4 linked regions of the Homo sapiens genome follow. The protein of the gene in region 4 interacts with the protein of the main gene of each other region in a pairwise test. Each region holds a gene or a part of one and is shown on either strand. Other genes may lie near its edges.

Region 1 (6,967 bases), on a different chromosome or scaffold from region 4:
TTTCCCAAACAGCTTGGCTAAACTGTGTGGCAAGGACAGCCAAGAAAACAGGCATTGGGCAGGTCTGGCAGGACCAGCAGGGCTCTTCTGCATAGCAAAGGAGTCATTCTCCATGCTTGCGATGAGTCTTGAGCAAAAGCAGAACCCAGAGGAGGCAGAACGCACAGCAAAGGCAGAGACTACTACAGTGGAGATTTAAGCTGAAAGGTGCTAAACCAGAACATTGGAAAAATAAAGTGGGGTTGGATTAATCGTTTTGTAAGTCAGAGGAGGAGTTTAGGCTGAATGAGACAGGTGACAGGAGGCTCTAGTAGGTTCCAGGGCAGGAGAATGACTTTTTGCAGGAGGATTACTCTAACACAAGTTGAACCAGGGAGGGAGGGAGCAATGAATGAGTAAAGGCAATGGAGCAAGGGAGGGGACACACAGGAATGAAAGTCTTAACCGCAGCAAAGGCAATAGAAAGGAAAGGAATGAATGCACGTAAGAGATTTTCAGAAGAAAAAGCAGGACTTAATCATGTCAAGCTTTTAAGCCCTGAGAAGTGCAGAAGATTGGATAGCTGGGGAGAATGGACGAAGGGGAATGCGCCTTAGACCAGCTGTCTGCAATCCAACTGACTAAAAAAGTTAAGCCCAGGAAAGCAAACTTGGTTCTATATCTACAATGCTGGCTTTCTGATTTGTTTTGTTTTGTTTTGTTGAGACGGAGTCTCGTGCTGTCGCCCAGGCTGGAGTGCAGTGGCGCGATCTCAGCTCACTGCAACCTGCCTTCCGGGTTCAAGCGATTATCCTGCCTCAGCCTCCCGAGTAGCTGGGCCTACAGGCGCGTACCACCACGCCGGGCTAATTTTTTGTATTTTTAGTAGAGATGCCACTGCACTCCAGTGTGGGTGACAGAGTGAGACCCTGTCTCAAACAGAAAAAAATAGGTAAATAAACATACATCCTTTCTTTCTGACATTCTCCGAGCGTTTTATTACTATTAATGGTTTTTTTCCGATTCTCAAGAACACGGTTTTCACCGTGTGACACAGGACAGTCTCAATCTCCTGATCTCGTGATCCTTCCACCTCGGCCTCCCAAAGTGCTAGGATTACAGGCGTGAGCCACCGCGCCCGGCCTACAATGTTTTAAGTTAAGCTTTGAAGAACTACACAGCTGAGTGCCCCGTCTCCTTTAAGGATGTGAAATGCAAACACTCACGATTTTTTGTTAAATCTAAGAACATCAGGAGATACGACTACTCAGATTCAAGGACACTGACATTACTTGACAAAGCAGGATGCAAAAAGAGGGCCCTTCCTGCCCACCCCGCAGACAGGGCTCATCATATGAGAGGCAAGTATCAAGAACGAAGGCTCTGGAAACAAACTCCCTAGGTCTGAATCCTGCTGCCCTACTTAGGAGATGGAAAAACCTAGAGAAACTTGGTTACCTAGGAGGAGCAACATACTGTGTTGCTTTTTGGTTTGGAAAGGGGGGGAAGTAGATAGAGGTGCTGAAGAGGTCTGAAATGCTGATTTAGGCAGAAGGTGAGTCACCACTTTGAGTTTCAGTTTCCCCAGCTGTTAATTAAAAAAAAAAAAAAAGGCGGGGTGGTGGTGGGGAGGATAAAATCTACCTTATTAGAAGCCATAAGGGCTGCACATTCCTTCTGAAGCAACCTGTGATGTTCTTAAGCGTTATGTAAATGTTAGTTGTAGGTAATATCAATACAAAGAATAACGCTATTTTTTGTTAACATATTAAATATCCGGCCGGGGTGGCTCCCGCGTGTAGTCCCAGCACTTTGGGTGACCGAGATGGGAGGATGACTTGAGTCCAAGAGTTCGAGACCTGCCCGGGCAACATAGTGAAATCCCCTACCAAAAAAAAAAAAAAAAATGAGCCGGGCGTGGTGGCGCGCTCCTATAGTACTAGCTACTCGGGAGGCTGAGGTGGGAGGATCACTTGAGCCCGGGAAGTCGAGGCTGCAGTGAACTGAGACCGCGCCACACTGCACTCCACTGTGGGTGACAGAGTGAGACCCTGTCTCAAATAGAAAAAAATAGGTAAACATAAATCCTTTCTTTCTGACATTCTCCGAGCGTTTTATTACTATTAATAGTTTTTTTCCGATTCTCAAGAGGAACTGAGATCCCAAAAAGGCTCAGAACTGCAGTAGTGGAGGCCCGGGACTGGGGGATAAAGGCTTAGGTGGTGGACGAGGCTGCGGGCCCAGCAACAGGCCTTGCGTACCATCCTGGGGGCCGGGGAACTGACAACAACAGGCGACATGCGCAGCGCACCCGATCCGTGCCACACGCTGTGCCTGCGCTTCATACACATCCCCCACTTTCATCCTCGCGACAGCCCTCTGAGGTAGGTACTTTCGTCAGCGCCACTTTACAAATGGGGAAACTGAGGCTCCGGGGATCAAGCCGCTATCCAAGGTCACATGGCTCGCGAGCCGAAAAGGCACGTTCGCTGGCTCCCGAGACTGCGTTCCCAACCCAGGCGCATCGCGGCGGACGGCGGGGGCGGGGAGGAGCGGGAGCCCGGAGACCCGGACCGATCGAGGCCGCGGGCGCGCGGGGGCGGCGGCCGGACTCACCTTGGCGCTGTGCACCGCCTCCTGCGCCCCGCAGAGCTGCAGCCAGATGCGCGCGGGCAGCGGCTCCTCAGCCCCTAGCGCGCCGAGCACGGCTAGGCTCACGCCAAACAGGCCCTCGATACGGCCGCGGCTCTGCTCCAGCAGCTCCGCCTTCTCAGCTGGCGCAGTGAACTCGTCCAGCACCGCCCGGGCCGCCATGGCGGGCGCGGCCTCCCGCGGCGGCGCCGGGGGCCGGCGGCGGCGACGCCCCCTCAGCTTGCTGCCGCTGCTCCCAAGCCAGTCAGGCGGCGTCGGCCCTTCCCGGCCGCCTCGCCCCCGCCCGCGCCCCGCCGCCCGCCCTCAGGCCCGGCTATACCATCCCGCCACGACCGCAGCAGCTTGGCAATTGCTGGCAGCGAACCCCTCCGCCCCTTTGCCGCCGCCGCGGGCCGGGCCCCGCCGCCGCGCATGCGCCCCGGCCGCAGCCGTCATTGAGGCTCGCCGCCCCCTAGGGGAAGGGAGTAGGGTGAAGGCGACGGAAGTTGACGTCACCCTCAGTCGCCATGTTGGTTGAGAATAAAGGGATGGTTTTGGAGGCCTGGGCGGACTTCTTTGATGAGGGGAAACCGCTTTCGCGGGATCTGGTGGATGTAGATATATGGGTTTATAGTTGGGGAAACTTAATTGCCAGGAGGCGAGACTGAGAGTGTCACAGGGATTGGACTTGACCTCAGACATCTTGACGCTCAAACCAGGATTCTAGCAGTTGAGTTATTCAGTTTCACGTTAATCCACAGGCAGACGGGACTTTTCTTTCTCTGTTTCTTCCCTTCCTCCCTACCCTTTTACCTTCTTAGCTGCCCTTCTCACTTTTTTCTCTTTCCCTTTTTATTTCTTTCAGTAAAAATGGTAGCAAGAAGAGAAGAAAATGGGCATACTTACGGAGAATTGAAAATCAAAAAAATGATTAAGATAAATTCAAGAAGGCCGGGCGCGGTGGCTCACGCCTGTAATCCCAGCAGTCTGTGGGGGCAGAGGCGGGTGGATCACTCGAGGTCCGGAGTTCGAGACCAGCCTGACCAAAATGGAGAAACCCCCGTCTCTGCTAAAAAAAAAAAAAAAAAAAAAAAAAAAAAAAAAAAAAAAAAAAAAAATTAGCGCGGCGTGGTGGCACATGCCTGTAATCCCAGCTACTAGGGAGGCTGAGGCAGGAGAATCGCTTGAACCCTGGAGGCAGAGGTTGCGTGCGGTGAGCCGAGATTGCGCCATTGCACTCCAGCCTGGGCAAGAAGAGCGAAACTCCGTCTCAAAAAAAAAAAAAAAGATAAATTCAGGAGAGTGATTTCTTCTGTGAGGGAAGAAAGGGGATATGTTATGGGAGAAGCCCGAAAAGTGGGAGTTTGGGGGCTCACTCATGATCTTCCCTGGGACTGGAGCAAATAAACCCTAACCCCTCTCCAGGTCTGTTTTCTGATCTGTAAAATAAAAGAGTACACTCAGTTATCTCTAAGGCCTTTTCCAGGCCTTTATATTCTCTGAGTCCATGAAAACAGATTGTGGAAGATAAAGTGTTGGATTCCTTTCCTTCAGCTAAATATTGTGGCTATAGTAGATAGGGGCTCTGGGAATATTACCTCTCTCTGTTTTAATTTTTCATCTATAAAATGTAGATAATAATAGTACTTCCTATTGTGAATATTAATACAGCACCCAACACTGTAAGTGCTCACTGAACATTATTATTGCTAACTTAAGCAATATATTTAAGGCCTAATTTTCAGGGAAAATCTTTGTGTGGATTATGCAACCACAGTGAACTTGTGGGCCCAGGAGTCTGTGCCATCTGTGTACATCCCTGCTAGAGGAAAAAGAGGAGGAGCTAAAGATGCTGTAGTTGGAAATACCAAGGGGGAATGGTCTCTGTAGGAGGATTTACCCAAGGTAAAACCTATGAGAGATCCAGGCTTCTGGGGGTTTCCATATGTCTCAGAAACTCAGGTGTGGTCTCCCAGTGCCCCACCAAGAAGTGATTCAGCACAGGGAAGAGAACCACTAGGCTCACAGATCAACAGATTCCTGCTCCCCTGGGCTTTTCCCTTGATGTCCACACAACCAGCAGCCTTGCTCCATCAGGTAGATGACGTGGGATTGGCTGAGGCAGGTCAGGTGGCGAGTGTGGCATTGCTGATGCATTGCTTGCAGAACCGCAGTCTATCAGTAAGGCATGTTGTCAACACAGCATGTTATTTCCTGCCTTATTGCACTCACCTTAAACGGAATTGCTATTGTTCAGTGATTAGACAGGGCTTTCCCCAGGGCTGGTTCCTGTTTGCTCCCAGTGACTTCCCTGCTTGCGATTCTTAATTGCTTAATTGTAAGAGGTGAAGAGGGAGGCTGCCTTGAAAAACACACCACAGTGCCTTCCTCTCCCCACTTCCCTCCAAAAAAATCCCACCCAAAACCAACAGAAGCAGTGCATACACACACCCTTAAAAAATGCTGGGCCAAGAAGCTGTGCTAATAAGTCACTGGGTTGGTGTATAATTGAAGATACATAGTTTTGGGAGGTTTTTCCTCCAGTTTTAATTTAAGACTTGCCAGGCTGGGTGTGGTGGCTCACACCCGTAATCCCAGCACTTTGGGAGGCCAAGGAGGGCGGATCACTTGAGCCCAGGAGTTGGAGACCAGCCTGGCCAACGTAGTGAAACCCCGTCTCTATTCAAAATATAAAAAATTAGCTGGGTGTGGTGGCACATGCCTGTAATCCTAGCTACTCGGGAGGCTGAGGCAGGAGAATTGCTTGGACCCCGGAGGCGGAGGTTGCAGTGAGCCAAGATCGCGCCACTGCACTCCAGCCTGGGTAACAAGAGCAAGATTCCATCTCAGAAAAAAAAAAAAAAAAAAGACTTGCCAGTTCATATTTGATCAGCATTTCCCTTTAGGGAACTCTCAAGGTTTCCTGAGTGTAAGGAACAAGGAGAAAGAGAGAGAGAAAAAAAAAATCCCCTTTCAAGAACTTCCTTGCTTCATGCTGTTTCTCACTCAACCACAACTTCCCTCGGTTAACCAGCCTTGCCTATCTGGCTGGCCTGACCAGCCAGGACAGTCGATGCCAGAGATGAAACCTTATGAATTCTGTATTCTAGATACTTTAGCTGTGTTTTTCCTTAATCTCATAACAACCTCAAGAGCCCATAAAATGGTATTGAGAGAATCACTTATTTTTGCTTCTCATATTTTCAAGGACAGGAGGAGATTCCTATTCCATTCCCCAGCGGGGCCAAGTGTGGAGGAACATGTCTATCTAGCTTTCATTCTCCTTTTCCCCAGAGCAGGAGGAGGATTTCTCTGACTGATAACTTTCTGAGAAGGTGGGGTGCTGGGTTGGACCGCCCTGTACCCTGGTAATGGGCTGTCTGCAGTTGCTGTGTTAGTGACTGGGGGTAAAGTATTTTCACTTCAACCACATCCTCCAGTCTAGCTCTTGTCAGCAATGATGATGACATTTTGATCTCTACCTGCTTTTCTTCCTTAGTTCTGAACTCAGAAGGGGCAGAAAGAGTGTTTATTGGTCTCCTAAAACTCCAACAGTGGTTGCTATTGTTTTTCTTCCTGTTTCAAAGATGAGGAAACCAGCCGGGGGTGGTGGCAGGTGCCTGTAGTCTCAGCTACTTGGAAGCCTGGGGTGGGAGGATTGTTTAAGCCCAGGAGTTCAAGGTGTGCCTGGGCAACATAGCGATATCCTGTCTCTTACCTGCCCCCCCACAAAAAATGTAAATTAAGGGGGAAAAAAGAGGAAACAGAAGAATAGAGAAATTCTGGAATGTTCCACAGAGCTAGTCAGTGAAGTGGTAGAAATAGCCATTTGAATCCAGGCAGTCTGACTGTAAGCAGGCAGCTTGGCTTCAAACTGCATTTTAAAACCTTGTTTTCTTTCCTTCTTTCTCCCCAGTCTCAAGATACAACTTTGAGACAAGCTGCATATGTGTTTCCTGTCATCTTGACATACAGCCTTGGAATGGACTGTGAACCTCCACTCCCTATCCTTCCCCATTCCATTCTCCCATGCCATATGCTCATTTATTTACCCAAACACTCGTCAAGCACATACCATGCTCACTTATCTGGTCATGTATTTCCTTAGAAGCCTCAGGGGCTGGATTTTTTTTTTTTTTTTTTTTTTTGCGATGGAGTCTTGCTCTGTCTCCCAGGCTGGAGTGCAGTGGTGCCATCTCAGCTCACTGCAACCTCTGCCTCCCGGGTTCAAGCAATTCTCCTATCTCAGCCTCCCGAGCAGCTGAGATTACAGGCATGCACCACCACATCCAGCTAATTTTTTTTTTTTTTGAGACGGAGTCTCGCTCTGTCGCCCAGGCTGGAGTGCAGTGGCGGG
Region 2 (8,018 bases), on a different chromosome or scaffold from region 4:
GTGATGGAGAGAGAAAGCCCAGGTCCTGAAACTTTTCTAGTTCCTGGCTCTGAATCCCCTTGAGGCTTTGTTTCATTTCCTGCCCTTGGATACCATGATCCACCTTCTAATTTTCCATTTTTTGTCTGTTTAGCGTGATTTCTTTTCTATTGGTTACAACTGAAAGCGTATTGATAAGACTGGTAGGTTTTAGAATCCCCATTTTTCAAAGACAGACACTAAAGCTCAGAGATGAAGCCCTGAGGCCAGGATCACCCGGGTAGTGAGGGCACCGGAAATTCCACCTGCCGACGTGTGCGCTTTCTCTACACGAGACACTTTCTTTTTTTTTTTTGAGACAGAGTCTCGCTCTGTCGCCCAGGCTGGAGTGTAGTGGCGCGATCTCGGCTCACTGCAAGCTCCGCCTCCCGGGTTCACGCCATTCTCCTGCCTCATCCTCCCAAGTAGCTGGGACTACAGGCACCCGGCTAATTTTTTTATATTTTTAGTAGAGACGGGGTTTCACCGTGTTAGCCAGGATGGTCTTGATCTCCTGACCTCGCTACACAATACACTTTCTAAGGACTTCACACATTACATCATTTAATCCTCAGGGCACCCCATGAGGTAGATAAAACTGTTAGCATCATTTTATTTATTTTACTTTATTTTATTTCTTTTTATTTTATTTTATTTTATTTTATTTTATTTTATTTTTTGAGATGGAGTCTCGCTCTGTCGCCCAGGCTGGAGCACAGTGGCTTGATCTTGGCTCACTGCAACCTCCGCCTCCCGGGTTCAAGCGATTCTCTTGCCTCAGCCTCCTGAGTAGCTGGGACTACAGGCGTGTGCCACCACACCTGGCTAATTTTTGTATTTTTAGTAGAAATGGGGTTTCACCGTGTTAGCCAGGATGGTATCAATCTCCGGACCTTGTGATCCACCCGCCCTGGCCTCCCAAAGTGCTGGGGTTACAGGCGTGAGCCACCGAGCCTGGCCTATCATTTTAAAGATGAAGAAGTGGGGGCAAGAAGTTGAGCCATCTGCTGGAGACCACACCGCAGGGGAAGAGGACCAGAGCCAGTGAACCTGGGAACTGACGCCAGAGGCTGGGCTCATAAAATGATGTAGTAATGCTAGTCCTGGAGGCAGTGGGCTAGGCATGGAAGGAGTAAAAAGTTTCCAGAATTTGATAAACTCAGGCACGCCGAGTTGAACCACAGACCCTCAGAAGATGGGAGAGCCTGTGGGTGTCCCTCCCGGACCACGCTTCCACCGATGTGAGCATCTGTTCTTCCACACCCCTGACCAACAGTCATTTTTCCAACGCTGTATCACAGAGCCTGCTCCATCATAGAGCAGGTCTGGTCTTGTCCCCTGGGCGATCACAAAATATGTTGGCTCCTCCACCCACACACCCTCCCCCTTGAAGCTCTGCCCAGAGCTCGCCTGGTGTTTGTAGGGGTCCTCCCCTTCTCTTGGCTTCCCCACACTGGTCACAGTGTCATTGCTCTCGAAAGTGAGGGGGCTAAGATATGACCACAGTGCACCTGATGGGACCATAGCCACCTCATACAGTACCTAGCCACTTTCTTGGGCAGGTCCTCAGGACACTCCAAAAGTTCCACAAGGTGAGTATGCCCTCAGTTAATTCCTGAATGGAGACAAACCACAGCTCTGAGTGATTGCATAGTTTCTGCTGTGGTTTGGGAAATATGTGGGTTCATTTATAAGCTGGATTTTGTCAGGAAGACTTCAAGCTCAGCCATTGTCCCCTGAGGATACCCTTCATGGCCCATCTGATACAGAATGAAGAAAGGAAGCACTCTTCAAGGCCGAGACCCCTGGGGAGGAGATGCCTCTATGGTCGAGATGTGCTGATAGAAGGCCCAGCTCCTGGGACCCATGGGTGGCGAAGAAACGGAAAGGGCTTGCAGTGATTCTAGAAAAAGAAGGCTGAGAAGGACCATGAGCTTTTATAGGCCAGAGGTGCCTGAAGACAGGCTGTGGATTATTTCAGGTTGGTGGTCACTGATGCTCTTGAGTGAAAGCCACAGATTTTCTCCCCCAAAATGCACATACAGACATACATTTGGTTAAGGAGTAGTTCTTGGTTCCCCAAACCAATGCAAAGTCCCCATTTAAGAATCCCTGCTCTAGAGAGAAACTTCCATCTAATTAAGACCCTCCTGGAATCTTCGCTGACCCACGCCCGGGCTGGGTAGGACCCTTCCTTGAGCTGCACTGAGCACCTCACTGTTGGCACTGTACTGCAAAGGTTTGAAGAAGGTGGCCCTTAAACCAGCAACATCAGCATCACCTGGAAACGCATTAGAAATGCAAACTCTTGGTGCCTAACCTAGACCAAATGAATTCAAAACTCTGGGGTGGGCTCAGCAATCTGAATAGGCTCTCCTGCTGATTCCAAGGATCACTTGCATTTGAGAAGAGCTGCTGCAAATAGTTCTCCTCTTCATGGTGTGTGTCTGTCCTACTAGATACAAGGCACCTGGCACATAGTAAGTGCTCAAATGAATAATTATCGTATCAAGTTTTCCCGACTCCCAGGGCAGGAGTTTTTCCTTGGTACCATACAGCTTTCAGCTGTGGTGACTGAGACCCCATGTCATTTTGGATCTAGTTTCTACTCTAAGGCCTAAGATCAGGCTTGGCTCTACTAGGCAGAGGCGGGGACCCGGCCTTGAGGCAGGTGCCCAGAAACCTTCACACAAGGATCGAGCCAGACAGACATCAAATCTGGGAGCATCTTTCCAGGTAACAAGGCCCCAACCACCTGGTGGATGAGGGGCAGGTGGACTAGGGGCTGCCTGCCCAGCACATATGCTCAGGGCTCACAGGACCCAACTCTGCCATGCTCTGCAAGCTGCCCCTACTCACCTTGGTGCCTGCTGCACACCAGCCTGGGCAGAGGCTGCCAAACCTCTGGCAGGGACATACTTACCAGGTTGGTGGGGAGAAAAATGGCCACTTTCAATTTCAATTTTTAAGGAATCTCCAACTTTTAGGGGTCTGGGAGGAAGTGGTTAGAAGACTCCTCTTTTTTTTTTTTTTTTGAGACGGAGTCCCACTCTGTCACCCAGGCTGGAGTGCAATGGCGTGGTCTCGGCTCACTGCAACCTCCGCCTCCCGGGTTCAAGCAATTCTCCTGCCTCAGCCTCCTGAGTACCTGGGACTACTGGCTGGTGTGTGCCACCACACCTGGCTAATTTTTGTATATTTAGTGGAGAAGGGGTTCACTATGTTGGCCAGGCTGGTCTCCAATTCCTGACCTCGTGATCTACCCGCCTTGGCCTCCCAAAAGGATTATTTGCGTGAGCCACCACTCCCGGCCAGAAGACTCCTTTTAACGTCTTGTGTTATGAGTGTTTGTTAAGGGGGGCAAGAGTTGTGTTTCTTAATTTCATGTCTCCCATATAGGGCTAAACTCCCAATTTAACTTATTAGGGAAAGGAGGTGTCTTCTACACAGTGCCTCCGTTTCCTAAAATTTTAAAAATAACTTTTTTGAGGATTGTAGGGAAAACATTTCTGTAACCTTTCCTGTCTCATATTGCTCCAGTTCTTTAAACATTACAAAAAAGAACATTTGATTTTTGAAGGTGGGGGCAGAGAGAAGATACCTGGTTACTCTTAATTTCCAATGCTTTTATTTTTGAAAAGTACCCTTGCAGTTTTCTTTTGGGGAGGGGCAAAGAAGGATTTCTGTTCACCTTGCATCTCATAGAAGAGCAATTCTTAACATTTTTATTCCAAAAATCAACCAGTTGTGGGAGATGTAGGATGGATCCAGTAATCCCTCCTTGTCTCTATAATAGGGCAGGTCCTTCATACTTTCAATTTTTAAAAAATCGGATTTTTTAGGAGAATAGGGAAGAGAATAGAAAAAAAAATCCCTTTTAAACTTTCCCAAGTCACAAGGAGGCAGTTGCTCAAGTTAAAAAAAAAAAAACAACAATAACAACAACAAAAAAACTGGCTATTTTGGGGTGTTGGAAAGAAATATCCTGGTTCACGTTTTATTTCACATGCAAGTTTCTCAAATTTTCCTTCTCTAAATCAACCTAACTGGGGGATATGGGGGTGGGGGGCGCTAATATCCCTTAACCTTTAACCCCTCTTGTCTTACTGTAGGACCAGTTTTTCAAACTTTTATTTAGAAATACATATATATATTTTAATTTGGCAAGGATAGGCAGAAACAGCCGCTTCACTGGCATTTCACATAAAAGCGGCTCCTCAAGTATTTATTTTAAAAATCAGTCTGGCTGGGGGGCTAGAGTCCCCTTAACCACTCTTGTCGGACATGGGGCCAGTCCTTCAAACTTTTATTTTATTACATTAGTTTTTTTGGGAGGAGTGGCAGGGCAATAGAATATTCCCAATAAGCCTTCCAGTCTTCCAGCAAGCCAGCTCTTGAAAACTTTTATTTCAAAAATCAATCTGGTTTTTTTTTGGCGGGGGGGTACAGCGGGGTACAGAGTTCCCATTAACCTCTTGCGTTCCGCCGAGAGCCGGCTCCCTGAACTTTTTTTCCAGCGTGAAAATGACATTTCCGAGGGGCTGGGGGACTGGGGGAGGGCAGAAGGGAGCCGGGGAGCGGGCGCGGGGGGCGCGGGGAGGGCAGGGCGCGGCGCGGGAAAGTTTGGGGGGGCGGGTGTGCCGCGGCACTGGGGCTGGCGGACGGGAGGGCGGGCGCGCCCCTGGACCGGCCGGCTTTGTGTGCCACGCGGAGGCCGGCAGCGCGGAGGCCGAGGCCGAGGCCCCGAGCTCGCGGGCCGCACGGCGAGGCCGGCCCGGGGGCGGGCAGGGCGGCGGGGGGCGGCGGCGGCCCCGCGAGGGGCGGCTCGGCGGCAGCGGCTGCCGCGGCGCGGCCGGTGCGGGCCGGGGGTGGGGGCGAGGGCCGGCGCCCCCCCCGCGCGCCCCCAGCGCCCCCGCCCCCCCGGCCTGAGCGGGGCGGGCGGAGGAGGGAGCGGCGGCGGCGGCGGCGGCGGCGGCGGCGGCATTGTGCGCGCACCAGCAGCCCGGCCCGGGAGGAGCAGGACGCGCCGGGGCCGCCTCCTCCCGCACGGACCCATGAACCAGCCGGGCGGCGCGGCGGCTCCGCAGGTACGACGGGGGGCCGGGGGCATGCACCGCGCGGGGGACCCCGGGGGGCCGGGGCCCGGGGCGCTGCGCCACTTCATTGCAAGATTTGCAAAATGCAAAGTGCCTGGGCACGTTTGCGGGCTTTTTGTGGGCGCAATCGGGAGGGTCGGGGTCCGGAGAGCACCCCCCCGGGCGCTGCGGGGTGCGAGGAGGGTGGGGGTGACGAGGGGGTCTTTTGGGGCCCCCACCCAGCGCCCCCTCCGGCCCCGGGCTCGGACCGGAGCCCAGAAAACAAAGCGGCGAGAGAACAGAGCAGCCATTTCAGTTTGGACAATTCACATTTTGCAAAAATGCAACCCCTTCCAGCTCTGCCCCCTCCCCCCCAAATTTGCAATTTTCCCCTGACCCTCTCTGCGCTCGGGGTCCCCGATGACCCCCCGGGAGGTCTTTCCCCCCAGGTCCCCCATTTTTGCAACAATCTTTTTTTTTAGGCCATATTTTCCTTTCTCAATTTTTTTTTTCTAATTTTTCTTCAAACGGTAGTTTTTTCCCATTAAAACGACGCCACCTAGAGGATACTATTTTGTAAATAAAAAAGAAATTAAAATTGAAAAGAAATATTTTTTATTTCTTATTTTTTCAAAAGTTTGCACTACCAGGCAGTGGAGGGGTAAGAGATTCTTTTTTTTTCTTTTTTCGGGTGAAAATTTTCACTTTGATCTTTCCAGAAGCATGGAGACAATTTTTATTTCTGAAGCCAAATCCAGATAATATGTAAATGAAAATTAAGCTGGAATTTGAATGAATTTAGTTCTTGGAGGGGAGAAAGCAAAAAACCTCCTAAAAGCAAAGTCAGTTTGGGTACCCAACTCATTTTAGTTTGAGAAAAAAACTAATTGGAATAAAGAAAGGAGGGAAATTGTTGAGTTTAGGGAAAACTGAGAGAATTGGCTTTATGAAGCAATTAGAAATTGTACTTCATTGTAATTTGGAACTTGTTTAGCTCAGCGGGCAAAAAAAGACTAATTTCTCTATATGGCAATATTTAAAGTTTTTCTATTTCCACGAACGAAGGATTTAAAAGAGAAAATAGAACCTAAAATGTTGGCTTTGGACACACCCAAAAATTGTAGTTTTTTTTTTTTAATTTTGCATTTACATTTTACTGCATTTAAATCCTAAGATTCTAAAGAAAACAGAAACTAGAAAAGTTACAGTGAAATCCTTTCTTTCTTTTTTTCTGTATTTGTTGGGTTTTGTGTGTGTGTGTGTTTTTTTTGTTTTGATGGAATAATTAAGACTGTTTTCTGATTTTGTTTCCTGAAAGGTCTAGGCATTTCTTTTTTGTTGTTGTTTTATCCAGAAAATGTCAGGAACCTTTTTTGAGCAATATTAAGTGGAAAAAATGTAAATTCATACATTATACAAATTGAGTAGCCCACAGATTTGTAGGAGAGACCGCCATTAAAATAAGATATGCATAATTAACATTATTATGAAAAAACTAACAGTGGATTCACAGAAGCTCATTTTTTATGACATGCAACTGAATCAATTGATGAAGACAAGGATTGAGGAATCCTTGGTAAGGAAGAAAATTTTCCCTTTTCTGTCTTGTTCACCCTTCCAATTTGAAAAATTTATTACTTAAAAAAAATTTAGATTGGTTTCAGGCCTCTTTGATTGTGATGTGGGGTTGGTAGTTTATCAATATTTGTTATTTTTCAAAAACCTGATTACTTTCAAAGGGGGAAAAATCCATTAGCCTTGATCATTTTGGGGGGTTTGTGACCAAAAAAAAAAAATGCACAAATTTTACTGACTTAACAAGAAAAAGATAAAAGAGGGATGGGCAAAAAGGAGATGAAAATTCTGATTCTTATCCATCTTCCTTGGTAGAACACTTACTTTGCTGAAGAAATGTGATATAACACCAACTCAGCTGGTTTTAGCAGCAACAAAATAAAGGAAAAATAATCAAAATACAAACAAAAGCCAAACCCAAGGTTTGCCTTTGGAATATGAAAGCATATATGCAAACAATATTTCATGTGGAGGTTTTGGCCTTAAAATGAATCACATGAAGGTGAAACAAAAAAGAAAAAAAAATTTAAGAAGGCAAATAAATATTGACCGAATTGAAATTTGACAGATGAGAATAAAGTACCCACCCAAAGATGAAGCGTTTTGTGATAAATTAGTATCTAATTGAACTTGCTGGGGATTTTGAGCCTATCCCCCAAAAGTTACAATTTTTCTGTCCAAAAACAGCATATTGTTAGGACTTGCAGGGCGGGATCTTGGAGGGACCTTGGATTGGAAATTGATGGTGGGTCACCTGGGGCAAGAAAGGAAACCCTTTGCTCCTTTTGCCAGCCACTAGCTGGTCTTGGGAAAACTGGTGGCCCCAGTCCATAGATTCCCAACCCTGTTTTGTGGAAATTTGGATGTTTAAGTGGAATAAGTCAAATATATTATCTCTGTGAAATATATTTGACAATGGCAGAGGTTTGACATTTCCCATCATCGCCATTGCATTTGGGAGATTTTATTTTTTTAGTAACGAAATCCTTCAGGGCTGACTGGTCACATTCTGACATATTTGGAATGAGCTTTTTTTTTTTTAAGTAGCATAATTAAAAAAATTTTTTTCTGTTGAATTATTTAGGCCGATGAGTAGGACGGTCAAGGAATTTATAATTTCCAAGGGGCTTTGGAGGCCTCATGAGGCAGAAGGCCTGAGTTTAGCAGTGATGAAGGAGAGATGGGCTGGGGAGGGGTGGAGGGGGGTAGGGGCATCTGAGAAAAAGTCAGGGTTGTAGATAACAGGTTATTTCTGGTGCAAGGAATAAAAATATTGCAGCACGTCCCTTTGTGTGGCCTGGATCTCCTGACACACAATTCAGCTTCCTTCATTCCATTCTGCTGAAATTT
Region 3 (7,635 bases), on a different chromosome or scaffold from region 4:
TTCCCCAATGAAGGAAATTTAAATGGAGTGATATAACTATAGAAATTTAAAAGTAGCATAATTAAAAAAATACAAGGAAACAGTGGAATGATGGATAAAGAGTTAATGTCATCAAGCACAAAGTGCTTATCAAGTCAGCATGTGACAGTCAGGCAAGTGATGTAAACGAGTGAATTGGGCCCATGCAGTAGACTTGCGTGGGTAGGAATTTTGTTGGACTCAGGAGCGCGTACCCTTTTGAAGGAAGCAGCTGCTACTCAGCTCCATCGTATTGTTTCCATGCAAGATTATGGGCTTGGTATTTCTAGATCTGATTGCTGTTTTCAAGAGAAGCCAGAAATCCAGATTTTAATATGAAATCTGCTAATTTTTGTAAGTTGATTTTTTTTGTTGTTGTTGTTAGCACCATGTGAACCAAAACAATATATCTGAGAGCTAGATTTGGCCCTCAGATTGCCAGTTTGTTACCTATCTTATACAACTGGAGAAGACCACCAAGACCCCAAAAGTAAAATTAGCCAGAGGCATAAATATAACAGTGTCCCCAAGAACTATTAATACAACAAGAAAATATGAAGAGTTTCAGTCTCACTGGTAATTAAGGAAGTGTAAATTAAAATAAAATACTATTTTATACCTTTCAAACTAGAAAACAATAAAGCAGTATAGTCTGAGTTATAGGGTAGCAGGTATAATTATTTATTTTAAATTTATAATACTGTTGTGTAGGCGAGCAACTACAGTCACCATCAACTGTGAACATTCATGTGGATAATTTTGAAATAGATGGAAATAATTGCGACATTAGGATAATAGTATAATGAAACTAGTATAAATAAATAACAATATTTGCCATTTTTAAAGGTATTTAATAATTGAAAAATAGACTCTTCAAGGACTACTTGTAAAAATTGCAGGACCTTAAAAATGCATTTGCTTTTTCTATTACTTTAGAAATTATAATTATATGCATTTTTGTATGCCTTTACAACTAGCATTATTTGTTCCCAGCCTTCCTTTTTCAGCTTTCATGGTGAGGTTTTAGTGTCATTACCTTGGCTTCTGGGATGTTTGGAAATAGGCAATACTGTATTAATTTCTGCTCTTTAGAACATTCTGTTCTTTTGATCTAGTTTATTGCTTGATAGACACTGGAAAGCAGAATAATGCTTAACTACCTTTTTTTTGCTGCTTATTTTATAAATTAATCTTTGTTAAGAGATTTCTGACATCATCAGCATCACATCATATGTTTCCTTTCAGCGGCATCTGGAGGTAGCAGAAGTAGCAGCAGCCCACTGGTGGTAGTGTCTGTGAAGTCTCCCAATCAGAGTCTCCGCCTTGGCTTGTCCAGATTAGCACGAGTTAAACCTTTGCATCCAAATGCCACTAGCACCTGAGTGTGGTACAGGAGGAATGTTTGGTTGGGAGAATCACAGCTTTACAAGGGTGTTTATATTTGATTTGTGTTTATATTTGAGGCAGGTATTGTAATATAAAGGAATCCATTACCATGTCCTATAAATGACCTCTAGCCATTTTATGATTATGTTCTCTGTAAAACTCTTCAAGACTTCAATGAGAAGTTTGTTTATAAGAATTATCTTCTCATACCTTTCCTTGTGAAGAGCGTATTCTGTTTTTCTATCAGTTCGACATGAAGTCCACATCACATGCTGTTCTTTTCTAGTTACATGATGTGCCTTTCTAGCTTTGTCTAGTTTATAGCACCTTAACTTTAACTGTTCAGTTTTATCTGGCAGAGGAAAACATTCTTATTTCTTTCAGAAGACATTTCTGAAATCTTATAAGCTACTTAAGCTACGTTGTCAGTTTTATCGCAAAGATGTTTTGTATTTTAGCCAAATCTTTTTATAGTACAAACTTAGAATTATTTTACACACTAAAATGGTTGCAGTTTTATGGCATATGTCTCCGATTTAGATGGTTATTCTCTAGAAAATAGTATTTAAAGACATTTTATGAAATCTTCATTGTCAAAACCTTTAATAAAAGTGGAAATATTTTGAAATGCCCTTTTTCTTGATACCACTCATCCACGTGTTCCTGATTGTCCACATTTCATGATAAAATGAGAGCTCCGCAGAGAATGTTAGCCTTTCTGTTGTAAATGTAATCTTCAAGTAGTCACTTTTTGTTAAGTTCTTTAGAAAGTAGTTGTCAAGTACTTAGTCATCCCTATTATGATATGAGATAGTACAGCTTTTCAGGAAGCTTAGATCTGAATTTACTTTGAAAAACAATTGTAATGAATATTTTATATTTACATTGAGAATTTCAACTAGCTTCTGATCAATTTTTAATAAAAAATTTTCAAATCATGTTAGCTGTTAAAAAATGTATAATAACTCAGTTTTTCTTGGTTTATGGAAATATCTATATTAATGTGAAAATAATTAATTTAGAATTGTGATTAAAGTGAGCATTTGTCTATTGCTGTTGTACACTTCTTTTATCTAACGTATATTTTTATAGTGTCATATACCAGCCCCCTAACCTGCCCCACCTGTCCCCTTTTTAAAAACATATTTTCCAGTTACATAGCACTGAGGTACTCTATTTGGTGTAGATCAACAATAAACATAAGAGCCTACTGTATATTAGGTACTGATATAATTGATTAATCATCTGGCACCAGCTCAATAACCTGTTTTTGCCGTGTTCTTTATAGTTTATCAGGGGATTTGAAAATTACCTCAAAGTATGTTAAAACCAGCCTGGCTGAAAGCACTGATACCTTTATGTTGCCAAACCCAGTGTACAATTTTCTCACCTAATCTTATACACCCTATTCATTATACTCTGATGAAAACATTTGATTTCCTTGGCTCATGTGACACATTTCTTTGTCATTTCTTCCCATCTCCATGCCTACTCTTCATTATTTTGCAGCTTTCTAATCTGTTGTGTCACCTTTACCTACTTGTCTTACCAGTTTCATGTTCTATGCAAACTCCAGGGGTCACTTATGTGACAGTGACTGCCAAGTCAGGGTCTGTACCCTATACCATGCTCTTGACAACAGAACCTGTGGATGGTCCACTGACAATTTGATGTAGCAGATCAGTTGTTAAATTCAACGTCTCCTCCTACCCCTGACATCTCTCCTGTGTTTTCTGTTGGTAAATGAATGGCACCACCATCACTGCAGGTGCCAAAGGTGTCATCCTGGGATTGAGTCTTCTCTCGACTTTCACATCCAGTCACCAAGTCTTACTCCATTTCCTAAATTTCTCAAAACTACTCTTCCATGTGCTCTCCCTTACTCTGAAACATCATCACTCACTATTTCTAACAGGCATCCTTGCCTTGATTCTTAACCTACTCGGGCCTACTTCCATTGTTATTGCCACAGAGGGTTTTATAAAATAAAGTCAGCATGAACACCCCTCTGCAGTCTGCACATACACACCTTACCCTGGTCGAGTTCATAGCCTACTTGGTGTCTGACTCCCCCTTTCCTGCTGCTTCAACCTTGTCTCTGCCCACGTGCAACTTTGATCCCTGCCCCACTAAACTGGGTGCTGGCACAATGGTACCAAGCTTTTCTATGGCTCTGGCCTTCAGAATAGGACTTGCCTCCTTTACGTAGACAACTACTGCCTGTCCTTGAAGACTCAGATTCAACTCAGCTCTTTCAGAAAGCTTCATTTGAATGTCTTTTCTGCCTGGACCAGACTGTGCACCTCCAGGTCAACCTACTGCCACTCAATTACAAATTTCCCTTTTCATGCTTTCTACAATCTGGTGCAGAGTAAGCACTCAAAAAGTGTTCAGCTGATATATGGATTTTACCCAGAACTTTTGCTATGTACTTACTTTTTTTCTTTTTCTTTTTCTTTTTTTCTTTTTTTTTTTTTTTTTTGAGATGCAGTCTCGTTCTGTCGCCAGGCTGGAGTGCAGTGGCGCGATCTCGGCTCACTGCAACCTCCGCCTCCCGGGTTCCAGCGATTCTCCTGCCTCAGCCTCCCAAGTAGCTGGGACTACAGGCACGCACCACCACGCCCCGCTTATTTTTGTATTTTTAGTAGAGACGGGGTTTCACCATGTTGGCCAGGATGGTCTTGATCTCTTGGCCTCGTGATCCACCCGCCTTGGCCTCTCAAAGTGCTGGGATTACAGAAAAAAATGTCTAAATAGAGACAGGGGCGGGGGGGTCTCACTACTTTGAGCAGTTTGGTCTCGAACTCCAGACCTCAAGTGGTCTGCCTAGGCCTCCCAAAGTGCTGGGATTGCAGGTGTAAAACCACCGCGCCCGGCCAGAACTTCTGTGATGTAATTCTGATAACCACATGCTTCGCTTGAAGAAGGGGAGAGAGTAGGGATAATTTCATGTGTCCGGTCTGGGCAACCAACTTTAAGTTCTTTATGCTGGGATTTTGTTCAATTCTTGCCCTATACTTTAAAGAACTGGGGCAAGAGAATGCGAGTAGGAGGACGAGGAGTATGTTCTTCAGGCTGCTACTCTGCAAGGTGGTTTGGGACCACAGCCTGAGAAAGCCCTTCCAGCTCTGGAGTCATAAAAAGGGCGGGAGCCGTTTCTATAGCGACGGGAGGAGGGCGTGGCCGTCCCTTGCCCTCTGCCGGGCTCTCACAGCCTCCCGCAGCGGCGGGCGGTCAGCGCCGGCCTCATGCAGCTCCTCCCGCCGCCTATCCGCACCGGAACAAAGTAAGGGCCGCGGAGGCTCGTACTTCACGAGCAGTCAGGCGCGAGTACGAGGCAGGCGACGAAGCTTCTGGTCGACGGGGTCGTGGGGGGAGAATGAAAAGCGTGCAGAATGCAAGAGCTGACCGGGGAATGTGGGTCAGAGAGAGGCGGGCTGTGGTGCGCGGACAAGAAAATACAGTTGTAGTTTTTGCAGCAGCTGCATCCCCGGAATCCGACGTCAGTATACTTCCATGTTAAGATGCTGTCGCATCGGCGACTCCAGCTGAGTGCAGGACAGGGAGCGAGGGGTTCTGAGGAACTCAGCAGACCTATCCTGGAACTGTGCTTCCAGCCCTCACTGGGACGCCAGACTTTCTTCCTCCCTTTCTTTCTCTTCTTTACTGCATGTCCTCTTGGTAGTCGTAAGTGGGTCCACGACCACACGCCTCGCGTGGATGAGGCTCTGGCAGGCATTACTCATGTTCCCACCCAGCCCATATGCCCGGGCACCTCTGTGCTCAACCAGGGCCCAGCCCCTGACACAAAAGCGCGCGAAGGTGTGTGTAGATCACACACCCAGAGCTGCCACTCAGGAAATTCCCAATATTAGCAAATCTTTCCTTAAAAAAGAGATGAACAATGCACAATTTGAGGGTTTTTAAAGGCTATTCTGTGACATTTGCTGCATTTGAAATGTCCAGCAGCCCCTCAAAGCTTAGGAAAACCGTGACCCCTCTGACATGTCTTAAGCAACGGACAGCATCACCAATATTAATTCAAGCTTCACTGTCCAGGCTTAAGTGGAGACTCGGCAAAAGCAGGAGGCCATTTAGTGGAAAAGTTCAAACCGTGGAAACAACAAATGAAAATGTCCTTTGTCTTGCTTGAGCGATTTGATCACCTACATGTGGTCGGTATGTAAAACCTAGGAGTTCGAAGAAATTCTTCAAACATGCACTCTACCTTATTGTTTCTGTTACTTAAATCTGTTGTTTCTCTTGTTTGTTTTGGTCCTTATGGAGAAAGCAGAGGTAAATCGGAAGGGACTCTCTAGCAATATGCCAGCCACTCTTCCCTGACTTTGCCCTCTCCAACTCCACATATTGTTGCCTGCAACTTGGCTAGAATGCATAGTCCTCAAGCGTGTGGAGGACCCAGTGCTGGGATTTAGTGGTTTTAGCTGACTCTAAGCCCATCGTGAGTGTGTTGTGATGGCTCCCCAAAGAGCAAATGCTGGTGGAGGCTGCATTCATAGAAATGCAATGACCACATCAAAGAATATGGTCGTGCTGCCTGACTTAGCAATGAGTAGAACATAATCCAGACTCTAGAAACTGTAGCTACTTTGAGATCACAAAGAACTGGAAAATAGGAACAACCACAAGGCAGGCTCTCTCTGTCAGGCCTGGGTGTGCCATCACATGAAGAGAGGTTTGAAAAAACTTCACAGAATGCCTGGAGATGAGGAGATGCAAGGGAGAGAAAGCTTTTTTCTACTCAACTTTTGAACATTCAAGAACTCTTGAGTAGAAAAGAGATAGATTTGTTCCTTGGTACTCTGCAGAGGATAGCAAGGATCAGTGGAGGAAATTTTGCTCAATATAGTTTATTCTTCCAAGAAATATCAAGTACCAACCCTATGTAAATTAACAGTTGAGTGTGAAATGGGTTGCCTAGAAAAACAGTGCACTCTGTCATAGAAATATTCCAGCATAGACAGAGTGATTGCCAGGAATACCATAGAAAGAGGATTCTTCCCCAGGGTGGGAAAATGGATGACATGGTCTCCAAAACCTCTTCTAGCTCTTTAGAGTCTGGGAGTCAGTGAACCCTCAAGAGTCTCAGGGATATATGCAGAGGGTCCAAGGAATTCTCTGGCAGAAATGAGTGTGACTTAAAATACATTTAGATAGAAGAAATAAGACCTAGTGTTTAATAAATCAGTAGAATGACAATAGTAAACAATAATCTATTGTATATTTCAAAATAGCTAGTAGAGAATAATTTGAAGCCCTGACTTGATTATATATTATATAAATATAAATATACATCTATTATATATCAATTAAAAAATGAATGTAACTTAAGTTCATTAAAAACATTATCACCTGTTCACAGAATGCAAACGGAATCCCTGCAAACCCTGCACTGCCATACTTTCTGCCCCAAAGACAGCCCCCAGGGCATAAAGATCAAGCTACTGGCAATTGCAGTAGAAATCCTAAAATCATAACAGGTAAATCTCAAAAGACTTGTTTCCTTTCTGGATATTGAAGTACTCTATACACAGATGATGTGTATATATTAATATAAAATACTATGCAGTGCAGTAAGGCTGGCACCTCTGTGGATCTGCCTTAACCTTGAGTCTTCGAACTCCTTGAAAACAAGGCTTCTGTTTTATTTATCTTTGAATCCTCCATGCTTAGCCCAGTAGCTGGCACACAGTTGATGCTCTGGAATTTTTTGATGAATTAATCTATTTTAGATTTCTCTTCCCTCAGCAAATTTGTACCAAGTTTTCAACAGACAAGTCACTGTCCTTACCCCAAAAGGAATTTTTTAAAAATGCAGGATCACCATCTATGTCTCCAAAAGACTAACAATCAATATGAGACAAAAAATATATGCACCTAAGATAATTAAATGACACTAAAGCTCTTGACCAAGTGAAAAAATGGTTTCTTAGGCAAACACACGATTGAACGCTCGAGGAAAGAGAGGAAGGGGAAGGAGAACTCCGATCTGCATGTAAGATGAAATGAGAATGGCCAAACTTTTGGTTTCAGTTCTCAAAGGAACATTCACTCTAGCTCTGAGCTGAGTTTATTAGTTATCTTCAATCCTTCATGTAACAAGATACAAACGAAATATAAAAAGCAGTTTAATTCTTTTCCACATAGCTCACCACATATTTTGAGGATAAAAAGGTAGCATTTGCAAAGCTTTGAGCAAGGGTTAAGTTG
Region 4 (4,560 bases):
AGCCTGCCCCCCACCTCCGGCGCGTGGGCATCCTGCTGGACTATGATAACGGCTCTATCGCCTTTTATGATGCTTTGAACTCCATCCACCTCTACACCTTCGACGTCGCATTTGCGCAGCCTGTTTGCCCCACCTTCACCGTGTGGAACAAGTGTCTGACGATTATCACTGGGCTCCCTATCCCAGACCATTTGGACTGCACAGAGCAGCTGCCGTGAGCGTCTGGCCACATGGAGCTGCTTTCTGGGGAACAGTAAGGTTCAGGCCACTATTTAGGGGACTGAGAAAGCACAGGCTTCATGAGTGTAATGAAATCTCACCAGAAGTGTCCCGAAATCGGCTCAGATAGGGCTCAAAACAAGAGATTCCTCTCCTTTTACTGTGTCTTGTATTAAGTACGGGCTTTAATAATTTCTTTAATTTTTTTGTATTTAGAGGAAAATCTATAGATTATTTATAAGAGAAACATAATCAGGATTACAACTTTTAGGAATTACTTGGTTTTGCACATTAAGAGGCCCATAAGTTTATCAGCTATTTACAACCTTCATTTCATCACAATCTGTGGGCTTACAAAAAAACAAAAACTTTTGTAGTTTTGTATGTTACTCATCTTCTTACCTGATATCCCATGATGATCCCATGGTAGGTCTTCTCACCTCGATGGTGCATAACAGGATGTGTTTGAACCTAGTAGGGGAGGAAACAGGCTTTCTTACTCTGGTTTAATTTGAAGTGTTTTAATTGTGATGTCAAAAAGTTGTATCAGATCAACTAAAATGGAGAGCAAGACAGAGAATGAAAAGAGTTGATTTTGGACCTCGGACCTTGCCGTGGCTAAATCTTTACCTTCTCATAGCTGATGGGATAATGTTGGAAAGAAAGGTTCTGAATCCTTTGGCCACATTTTGCCCTGCTTCTCTCAGGGTTAAGGGTTCTGGAAGAACATTAAGAATGAGATTGCAATTGAAAATAGTCATTTTGAATCCTATTGATTATTCAAAAATTCAGGCTGATTTGTCTTTTATCAGAGGTAGGATTCTGTTTTATAGTATAGAATCTACTTTATCCTTCCTTTTAATAGTTCCTTTAGACCTGTGAAATTTCTTCACTACATTTAATAGTTCTCCTATTTCCCGCTCCCCCATATCAATTTTCCTTTTGTCTCCGGGGCTGAGTAAATAAACATGTTCTGTCACAAATAGCAGCACCACTTTGGATTGATTTTGCTCTCCAGGACATCAGCACATGGCCCTGATCAGCACTACCACATCCAAACATAAGTCACTGAAAAACACTTAATATTTATGAGTTGGTAATGACAAGGGACATTGTATAAAGTACTATTTGCTAGATTCATGCCTCAAAAGTTATTATAAACAGACCTTTATTAAACACATCTTGAAAGATGTAGAAGTCCCTCTATAGTCTAGTATAGTTTACAATAGAGTTGTAAGACCAAAAAAAAAAAAAAAAAATTCAAACTCGTTATTCAGGAACCTGCTTATAAAATGTCAGCTGGGATTCTTTGCATGCCAATCTGATGCGTTGGAATGGTCCATGAATTAAGGCTTTCTTGAGCAGTTCTTGGCCCAGAACTCTGGCATTGGTTCTAGTTTGATGAAGGGCATGACCTCTATAAATGGTTTCAATTGCTAAAATATTTACCTGGGATACTGGGTCAGCCATTTTGACTGAGCAGACTAGTGGATTTAGACATTGTTTTTAGTTATTTTGTTTTTAACCAAATCAACCAACTGCCTCCCTGAAATAAGTCAATGAACTCATTGTTTCAGCATCACGTGGCCAAAGGTCATGTGATTGCAAATCTGGATTTCAAGGGAGGCCAAGCCAGCTTCCTGGGTCCTTCCATCCTCTTCCCTAGCAGACACTCTCCTTTTTCTTAACAGATAGATTCTATATATTTACTATATTATTTATACCCAGATGAATATTTTGATAGATACCTAAGACAATTTCACATCTAAAAGATGGACGCCTCAATGGAAAAAAAACAATCTTTCTCTGGAAACCTTATAGGTTTTTCTTTTTATTACAATATAAAAGCAATGTGTGTTTGCCTTCTCTGAGTAAACTGAAAGGGTTGTCTCAGTAATTTTTACATACATTTTGGGTAACTGGATAATGGATATTTTAATGCACTTTGTACACTAACAGGTTCTAAATAAAAGGGTCTAAAACTCAGCTTCTGAGTTTTTAAAATCACGGTCTCCAGGTACCAATAAATGCTACAGTTTGCCTTATGATGTTAACATAAAACACTTAGTAGAAGGACAATATTTCCATGAAAATAATGTTTTTCAATATTAAGAAGTTACTACTCAAATTTTCACAGTAAGCCATTTAGGGTATGTTTGGCTATTTTTATAAGGACATGAGAGATTATGTCATAATTTTGTTGTGGAAGTCTCACTCTTGGCTAACTTAAAAGCATTGTGGATAGTAGCAGTTACTAGTTCCAGGTTGTCATATTTACAGGAAAATATGTATATGGTGAAAGGCCACCGTGTTTAATTACTATAATGATGTAGAAAAGATTCCCGTGTGAATTTTTTTTTTGAAAGTCTAAAAAATGTATGCTGTAAAAATTTGCTGCAGTGTAATTTTGCATTCTCTTTAAACTGATTGAGGTCACAGTATTTTATTATTTGGGGTCCTCACCACAGGAAACACTGCGATACAGGGGCAAAAGAGATGGCAGTGCCAATTAAATTAATACAACAAAATCAATGCAGCACCAACCAAGACTGCCAGGTCTGGTGTCATGGGTATGCCCAGAGCCCAGGAGTTCAGAAGGGCCCTAAGCCTGATTTAATGCTCTGCTGTTGATGTCTTGAAATTCTTAACAATTTTTGAACAAGGGGCCTGCGTTTTCACTTCGCACTGGGCCTTGCAAATTACATAGCGAGTGCTCATAAAAGAACTCAGAAACGTGGTACCTCTCTTCCTGGTGGATACAAATAAAGAAATCTGGATCCAAAGTTGAAAGTTGCTGGCGATATCATTCAAGTAGGACTCTAAATAGTGGATTAAGATGAGGGTGGGCCTGGGTGAAGATTCTTTCCAGCTTTAAAAGAAAGTGACTTCAAAAACTGACTGCAAATATTGACGATGGTTTCTGCTGGAGGAAAAGAAACAGCTTGAATACAGACAGGCTTTTTTATTACGGTACTGATATATTGACCTTAAACTTGCTGAGGAACTGAACTAACGTCCTCCAGTGACCGTGGAATTCCATCTCAGCTCCAGGAACATGCAGATACCTGCAAAGAGACACGCATATATGCTGGCATACATGTGCATTTGGTGTTGGGAAGTTGACCATCTGGTCTATCTTAATAAAATGGTAAAAAGCACACCAAGACAATGATGGGGGCAGGAGGATGTTTTTGAAAACAGCGCTTCTCAACCAGTGCTCGATTTTGCCCCCCAGGAGACATTTGGCAATGCAATGGCAACTTTTGGTTGTCGCAGCCGGGGAAGGGAAGCTACCAGCATCTAGTGCGTAGAGGTCATGGACGCCGTTAAACATCCTACAGTGCAAGCGCAGCCCCCGACCACGAAGAGTTGTCTTGCTCAAATATCAACAGTGCTGCAGTGTAGAAACTTGATCGTTGGTTTTCTTTTAATGCAAAACTCTCATAAAAACCTTTCACTTTTCCTGTCATTGATTATATGCTTGATACACCCAAAAAGAAAAGGGGAGGGGCACCAATTCACCTACACTCCAGTGGCTCCATCACCTTTAAAAATATTTATAAAATAGTTCCAAAAATCTGATATCTGAAAAGCAATCCAAGCCTGTGTAAATGGGAATCACTGATAAGTATCATCATCTGTATCAGCTTGGCTTGGACATGAAAAATTGATTCTCTTTATGTCACTCCTTGCACCTGGACAAATTCAATCCCCGGTACTTAAGTCACACTGCCAAGCCCTCGGCCCTGACTATTGTCTTGATTGCTGTTCCTTTCTGGTTCAAAATAAAATCATTTTTGTGGCACCAAGACCCTCTGTCTCTGCCTGTCTCTGTTGCCTTTTCATCATTTTGTGTTTTTGCAGTTATGATGTTGACAAATATTTATTCAACATCTACCATTTATTCATACTACTTTATGACATATAATTCATTTTCTTTTACTGTCTCTCATCCACTATTTGCCTTTCCCTATTCAAAATACAATTCTTTTGCAACACTCAAAATATTCTCCAGGGAATTTTTAAAACACAATAAAAGAAAGCCTATATAGAAGTGGAAACCCAGAACAAGGTTTGCTTGATTTCAAGTCTTATAGATGGGGTGAGGAAGAGAAGAGCAATGATTATTTGAACAGAGCACTGGGAGTCTTTACAGTGTGATCTAGGAGAATCCTAGCAGTTGGTCCATACATATATCCTCAACCCCATCCCATGGACCTGACTTTCTCTCACTAGAGATGCAAGCCTTTGGTCTTGGTCAGTGCTATGCAAAGTGTGGTCCAGGAATCTGCAGCATCTGCATCACCTGCGAGCTTGTTAGAACTGTCAGTTCTCCTGCCT

The links.
Region 1: the proteins of MID1 (region 4) and N4BP1 interact in binary tests that used the Homo sapiens proteins (3 or more experiments, as listed by UniProt).
Region 2: the proteins of MID1 (region 4) and ZNF618 interact in binary tests that used the Homo sapiens proteins (3 or more experiments, as listed by UniProt).
Region 3: the proteins of MID1 (region 4) and DYRK4 interact in binary tests that used the Homo sapiens proteins (3 or more experiments, as listed by UniProt).

What each region holds. Positions count from the first base shown.
Region 1 is NC_000016.10:48,607,180-48,614,146, forward strand, and holds the start of N4BP1 (NEDD4-binding protein 1), read right to left. Parts: upstream 3,002-6,967; 5' UTR 2,794-3,001; coding exon 2,596-2,793; intron 1-2,595. UniProt on the Homo sapiens protein: Potent suppressor of cytokine production that acts as a regulator of innate immune signaling and inflammation.
Region 2 is NC_000009.12:113,871,309-113,879,326, forward strand, and holds the start of ZNF618 (zinc finger protein 618), read left to right. Parts: upstream 1-5,000; 5' UTR 5,001-5,072; coding exon 5,073-5,105; intron 5,106-8,018. UniProt on the Homo sapiens protein: Regulates UHRF2 function as a specific 5-hydroxymethylcytosine (5hmC) reader by regulating its chromatin localization.
Region 3 is NC_000012.12:4,557,594-4,565,228, forward strand, and holds the start of DYRK4 (dual specificity tyrosine-phosphorylation-regulated kinase 4), read left to right. Parts: upstream 1-4,614; 5' UTR 4,615-4,652; coding exon 4,653-4,690; intron 4,691-7,635. Other genes in the region: RAD51AP1 (RAD51-associated protein 1), read left to right, coding at 1,264-1,400. UniProt on the Homo sapiens protein: Possible non-essential role in spermiogenesis.
Region 4 is NC_000023.11:10,445,026-10,449,585, reverse strand, and holds the end of MID1 (E3 ubiquitin-protein ligase Midline-1), read left to right. Parts: coding exon 1-218; 3' UTR 219-4,030; downstream 4,031-4,560. UniProt on the Homo sapiens protein: Has E3 ubiquitin ligase activity towards IGBP1, promoting its monoubiquitination, which results in deprotection of the catalytic subunit of protein phosphatase PP2A, and its subsequent degradation by polyubiquitination.